Linked DNA regions of Homo sapiens. The protein of the gene in region 1 interacts with the protein of each later gene in a pairwise test. Each region holds a gene or a part of one and is shown on either strand. Other genes may lie near its edges.

Region 1 (3,828 bases):
TAAACTCCTTATGGAACTTGTTTAATCAGCCAAAATACTCCTAAAGAATTTGGTTGAGGGAATTGAGCCTCTTGCCCTAACAATCAGTAGGGCTTACTAATTTACAATGATGACAGTGTGGGACTGGCACAGGAACAAAAGAAATGACAGATGGAACAAACGTCTGAGCCCAGAAACACTCATACTCTATATATAGAGAAAGACCTGTGGGAAATTACTGAAGAAAAGAACTATTCAATAAATGGGGGTTAAATAACTGATTATCTACGGGGTGGGGGAGGAGGGGAGGAATTAGATACCTTACCTCTTGCACACATATACACAATTCTCAGTAAACACCTAAACATGAGAAGCAAAATTGTCAGCAGTGACAACACGCAAATTTTACAGCACAGGCAAATGAATGGCAAATGAACATGAAAAATTACTGATCTAAGGTCAGGAAAGGAGGTCAAGAAAACACAAATTAAAATTATGAGATACTTTTTTATATATGCTACATTAACAATAAAAACATTGCAAAGGGAAGTAATACTCAAGAGAATATCATCATTTTGGAAAATACCTGGCATTATTTTGCAAAACTTGACAAGCCAACAACTCCACTCTTACGCATAAAGTCTCTTGCATATGTGTACCAGGGGACAGTCAAGGATGTTTTGAGTGTACTGTTTCTACCAACAAAAACTAAAAACAAATGTCAACTGATAGGAAAATGAACACTTAAATTGTGGTATACTCACACAGAATACTATAGAGCAAGTAAACCATCCATGCATATAAGCGCAAGAATGAATTTTAAACATAAACTCAAAAAAGCAAGTTGAGTAAGACTTCACATTCAGACACTATATGTAGAAAGCTTCAAAAAATGAAACAGTATGTTTGGAGAACATACATGTGTGATTAAAAAATGGCAAGGAACAATAAAAAATGACATGGGGAAAGAGGTAAGAAAATAGGAAGAACATACATATAGGTAATTGGCAGCTTTCCATGTCTTTAGGTGTGATGAGTTTTTAAGTGTTGTTATTCATCATACCTTACAAGTAATATATAATTTTATCTATATATCAATCATTACACAATATAAAAAAAATCTTTAGAAGATGCCTATCTCCTAATGAGTCAGTGAATGGTGGGAAAAGTCCATTTTCTATAGACTAAGGCAGCACACTTTTTCTGCAAAGGGCCAGAGAGTGAATAAGTTAGGCTTGTGGACCATATACTCTCTGATGCAACTATTCAACTCTCACGTTGAACTAGACAGCAGCCATAGCCAATATGTAAACAAATGGGTACAGCTATGCTCCAATAAAACGTTATTTATGAAAACAGGTGGACATCTGGATTTAGCCCATGGAGGATATTTGCTGACCTCTGGTCAAAGCTAACTGTTTAAAGTTTATGTTCCATTATTTGCCATTCCATTTCTTTTTAAATTTTTATGGGTACATGGTAGGTGTATATATTTATGGGATACATGAGATATTTTGATACAGGTATGCGATTTATAATAATTACATCAGGGTGTATCTACTGCTTCAAGCATTCATTTGTGTTACAAACGTCCCAATTACACTCTTTTATTTTTAAATGTATAAAGTTATTGTTGACTGTAGTCACCCTGTTGGGCTATCAAATACTACAACAAATTCGTTCTAACTATATTTTCGTACCCATTAATCAACCTCACTTCCCTCCCCATCCCTTCAATGCCTCCCAGCCTCTGGTAACCATCATTCTACTCTCTATCTCCTTAAGTTTGATTATTGTAATTTTTAGCTCCCACAAATGAGAATATATGAAGTGCCATTCCATTTCTTAAACAAAGCATAGACTGTCTGTAAGCTATTTACCACTTCACTTTTATTTCCATTTTAACAACTAGTACATTATCCTTGGCCTTAGGAAAAGCCTCCATCAGTTCTATGTGTTCCCAAAATATAAGCTCATGTGATAACGAGGTCAGGCAATTCAGTTTTTTAATTCATAAAGTGCATTCTTCAGACAGCTTCAAATAATGTCTAATTAAGTAGCCACTAGAAGATCAGAAATTATTAGAATGGACTACAGCTATGAAAACTAATACCAATCTCTTAAATTCAATAAACAAAAATTAAATACCATTAGGTATTTAGTTACATAGTTTTTTAGCCTATGTAAGTAAATAGGGCTGTGAATAGTCTGCCTTCTGCCAAAGTGGAAACCATAATGCCTATCCACCATGGATTACGTCTAAGGTTTTCATATTCTTTACCCTGATTATGAATAGAACCTTTCCTTTTTAATAACTTGTCTTTTAATATAAATTCCAATGACCGAATCCCAGAATAAAAATGTTTACCATTAGTAAACTCAATTGTTTATATATATTTTTTTTACAAGTTTTAACCTTTTGGAAAAACAGAAGCAGATATGATAAAATAATTTCTTGAAGTACTTTTTTAATCCAATTAAGCTGATAATAATCACTTCGAATTTTAATACAATACAATCATGTTCCCAAATTTCCTAGGCTCATAACAATACAGTCTCAATACAAAAGACGTAATAATCTATTTTTATTTATTTTAAATCAAAGAGACCATTCCATTTCCTAACAAACAGGTAAGTTACAAAAGTAGTCCATTTTACTTTTCATCAGTCTTTCCCTGTTTTGAACAAGTTTTTTTGAGAATTCTTAGTTTTAGTTTTTGTTTAGCTTACACACTGAAAATTTTGAGAAGCATCTAAAAAAATCCACAATTAGTGCAAAAAGAGGGGACAATACTTTAAGTCATTCCTTCTATAAAAAGAATTAAGGTTACTAAATGCCAATTTTTAAGCAAATATATAGTTTCCTATTTGCCTTCTGAAAGACAGCAGATATAAAAATAGTTCAATATTAGGTTTAACAAGGTTTGAACAACACATGTACTATCAGCTTTATTTTACCTGCAAAAATATTTTAGCTACACTTGGAAAAAAATAAACTTGAGAATATAACTTCACATTTCTAAGGCCAGATGCAAGAATACTTATTCTTTTCCTTTTAAATAGAAGACATGCCATAAAATTTATGAAAGTTAATTTGTAGGAATGAATACATTTAAAAAATACTGGTTAATCTGTGAGGAATTCCACATTTGCCTATTTAACAAAATTTCATCCATTTCATAAGGCTTTGGTATAAGTGATTCCCAGCACTTCATCATTTATCTTTCTTCTTTGCCTCCTTTACTTCCTTCGTCTGCTCATCCTTCTCCCCTCTCACGTTGACATTTGCTGCTCCTTCTTGATTTTCCCTCTGAGAATTATCAACTATCTGATAGTCCTCAAGGAGAGTGTGTCCTGTTTGTGTTGCAGTTTTCTTCACCATTGCTTTGATACCAATGTTGTTAATATTGTAGGCAGTTACGCCAACATTGACCGCAGAATCCACCGCATGGTGGGTAGCTTCTCCTGCATTATATCCGTATCTTTAAAAGAAAGATTAGAGGACATACAATGAAACAATAAATATAAAATAAGGTCTTCTGAATTAGTATTAAATAAGTCAAATGATTACTGTGTTACCCCTGAAAGCAAAATTAAAGCTTAGGTTTCAATTTAATTAATAACTTAAAACACAGTAGAGAATGAAATCACACTCTGTGACAAAGCAGTATTTTCTCCTTTAGTAAAAACAGTGTGTGAAAATAAACTCAGACTAGCTGAGAATGATGTAATAAAGACTGTCAAGTAAAAATAAAAGTGTAAATTATAATACAGGTCATTAATCAGTCATTATTTCTTTTTTTAATCCTCCCTTTCTAGAAATATGAGGGAAAATATTCACAGAAGCAA
Region 2 (2,918 bases), on another chromosome or scaffold:
GGCCCCTTTTAGCCACTGCTGGGATGTGGGGCACCAAGTCCTGAGACTGCACAAACCAGCAAGGCCCTGGGCCCCAACGACAAAACCATTTTTTCCTCCTAAGCCTCCAGGCCTGTGATGGGTGGGGTTGCTGTGAAGACCTCTGACATGCCCTGGAGACATTTCCCTCATTGTCTATGCTATTAACATGTGGCTCCTAGTTACTTATGCAAATTTCTGCAGCTGGCTTGAATTTCTCCTCAGAAAATGAGTTTTTCTTTTCTATCCCATAGTCAGGATGCAAATTTTCTAAACTTTTATGCTCTGCTTCCCTTTTAAATGTGAGTTCCAATTCCAAATCATCTCTTTGTGAATGCATAAAATTGAATGCTTTTAAGAGCACTCTTGAATGCTTTGCTGCTTAGAAATTTCTTCTGCCAGATACCCTAAATCATCTCTCTCACATTCAAAGTTCCACAGATCTCTAAGGCAGGGGCAAAATGCTGCCAATCTCTTTGCTAAAGCATAGCAAGAATCACCTTTATTCCAGTTTCCAGCAAATTCCTCATCTCCATCTGAGACCACCTCAACCTGGAATTCATTGTCCATATCCCTATCAGCATTTTGATCAAAGCCATTCAACAAGTCTCTAGGAAGTTCCATACTTTCCCACATCTTTCTGTCTTCTTCTGAGCCCTCCAAACTGTTCCAACCTCTGACTATTACCCGGTTCCAAAGTTGCTTCGACATTTTTGGGTATCTTTACAGCAGCACCCCACTCTCTGTGGTACCAATTTACTGCATTCGTCTGTTTTCATACTGTTATAAAGAACTGCCCAAGACTGGGTAATTTTAAAGGAAAGAGGTTTAATTGACTCACACTTCAGCATGGCTAGGGAGGCCTCAGGAAACTTACAATCATGGCAGAAGGTGAAGGGGAAGCAAGGAACCTTCTTCATAAGACAGTAGGAAGGAGAAGTGAAGGGAAGAGCCCCTTATAAAACCATCAGATCTCATGAGAACTCACTCACTATCATGAGAACAGCATGTGGGAAACAGCCCCCATGATCCAATTGCCTCCACCTGGTCTCTCCCTTGACACATGGGGACTATGGTTATTATAGGGATTACAATTCAAGATGAGATTTGGGTGGAGACACAAAGCCTAACCATATCAGCCCTCCTGGGTATGGACTCTTCTGGACATGGACCTTCCTGGGCATGGACACTTTTAGGCATGGGGCCCTCCTGTGCATGAACTGGCCTGGGCATGGACCCTCCTGGGCATGGGCCTTCCTGGGCATGAGGATCTCATGGGCATGGCCCTTACTGGGCATGGACCCTCATGGGCATGGGGTTCTCCTTGACATGGTCCTTCCTGGGCACAGGGCTCTGTTGTGTATGGGCCCTCCTAGGCATGGACCTTTCTGGACATGAACCCTCCTGGGCATGGACCCACCTCAGCATGGACCCTCCTGGGCATGGAACCTCCTTGACATGGACCCTCCTGGGCTGGACCTTCCTGGGCATGAACGCTCCTTGACATGGGCCCTTCTGGTAATGGATCTTCCTAGGCAGGGACACTCCTGGGCATGAACCCTCCTAGGCATGAATCTTTCTTGACATGGAGCCTCCTGGGCATGGAGCCTCCTGGACAGGGACACTCCTGGACATGTATCCTCCTGAGCACAGGGCCCTCTGTGCACGTGACTCTCCCGGGCATGGGGCCCTCCAGGGCATAAACTCTCCTGGGCATGAACCCTCCTGAGCATGGACCCTTCCAGGCATGGGACCCTCCTGGACATAGACCCCCCCCAACCAGGCATGGACACCCTTGCGTATGGACCCTCCCGGACATGGGACCCTTTTGGGCATAGAGCCCTCCTGGGCACGGGACCCTCCTGGGAATGAGGCCCTCCTGCTCATGGACCATCCTGGGCATGGACCTTCCTGGGCATGGGCCCACCTGGGCATGCACCCTTTTAGGCACAGAGCCCTTATGGGGCTCTCCTGGGCATGGGCCCTCCGGAGCCTGGGTCCTGTGAGATGCCATCAGCCGCATGCTTGTGCCATGTCCCTGCCAGAACATGACTGCCATCTCTCTCCAGTCCTGTGGAACATGGAACAGGGTGGGGCGGTGCCTGTGGACATGCAATATGGGATGACAGGATGGGGTTTGAGCCCAGGCCGTGCTGGCCCACACTCACAGGAGGTCTCTGGAGTGCCCTGTCCTTCCAGCTTGGGTTTCGAGATGCCCTCCATGCAGGAGTACAGGAGAGGCAGAAACCAGCAGGACATCGTGCCTTTACCTGAGTGGGCACCCAACCCCTGCCCCTGCCAGACATGGTTTCCAGCCTTTCCCTGAAGGAAGGAGAAGAGGGCTGGGTTCCTTGACAGACCCTGGCCACCCCCTTCACTGCCACCCACCCCAACCCACCCTCACCTGCTTGACCTTGGTCACCCCCCCTTGCACCGCTGTGCAGCCCCTACATGGAGATCAGCTGCTCCCAGCCCTGTCTTGAGCAAGGAAACCTGGGCTGGGGGCCTCTACTGTGGTCCTGCCAGGAGCTTCCAACAGCCCCTGCTCACGCTCCAGGTGGGTGGGGGTGGGAAGGGGTGAAAGGGTCCAAGGGGGACCTCAAAGTGAAGAGCCCCGAAGGGTCCCTGGAAGATGTCCGCCAGCCCTCTGAGCCACGCGCTCCCTCCCTGCCTCCCACCACACGAGTGCGAAACACAGAGGGCCCCACTAGGACTGACTCTGGGTGGGGAGTTTTATTCCAGCCCCGAGGGGCAGCGGCAGGTGTCATCAAGGCTGCACCCTGGCCAGCAGGAACCCACTCTGGCCAGGTGAGCTGGTTCTGGGGGTGGCAAGTGTGAGGCCCCATCCCGGGGGTCTCTGACATTGGCCTTGCTCTGGCCTCAGTCCTCTTGCCCTTGTC

What was found.
Region 2: the proteins of SPART (region 1) and GPR35 interact in a two-hybrid assay, tested with the Homo sapiens proteins (one large-scale study listed by BioGRID and IntAct).

Annotation. Positions count from the first base shown.
Region 1 is NC_000013.11:36,301,172-36,304,999, forward strand, and holds the end of SPART (spartin), read right to left. Parts: intron 3,462-3,828; coding exon 3,194-3,461; 3' UTR 467-3,193; downstream 1-466. UniProt on the Homo sapiens protein: Lipophagy receptor that plays an important role in lipid droplet (LD) turnover in motor neurons.
Region 2 is NC_000002.12:240,631,068-240,633,985, reverse strand, and holds the end of GPR35 (G-protein coupled receptor 35), read right to left. Parts: 3' UTR 827-2,918; downstream 1-826. UniProt on the Homo sapiens protein: G-protein coupled receptor that binds to several ligands including the tryptophan metabolite kynurenic acid (KYNA), lysophosphatidic acid (LPA) or 5-hydroxyindoleacetic acid (5-HIAA) with high affinity, leading to rapid and transient activation of numerous intracellular signaling pathways.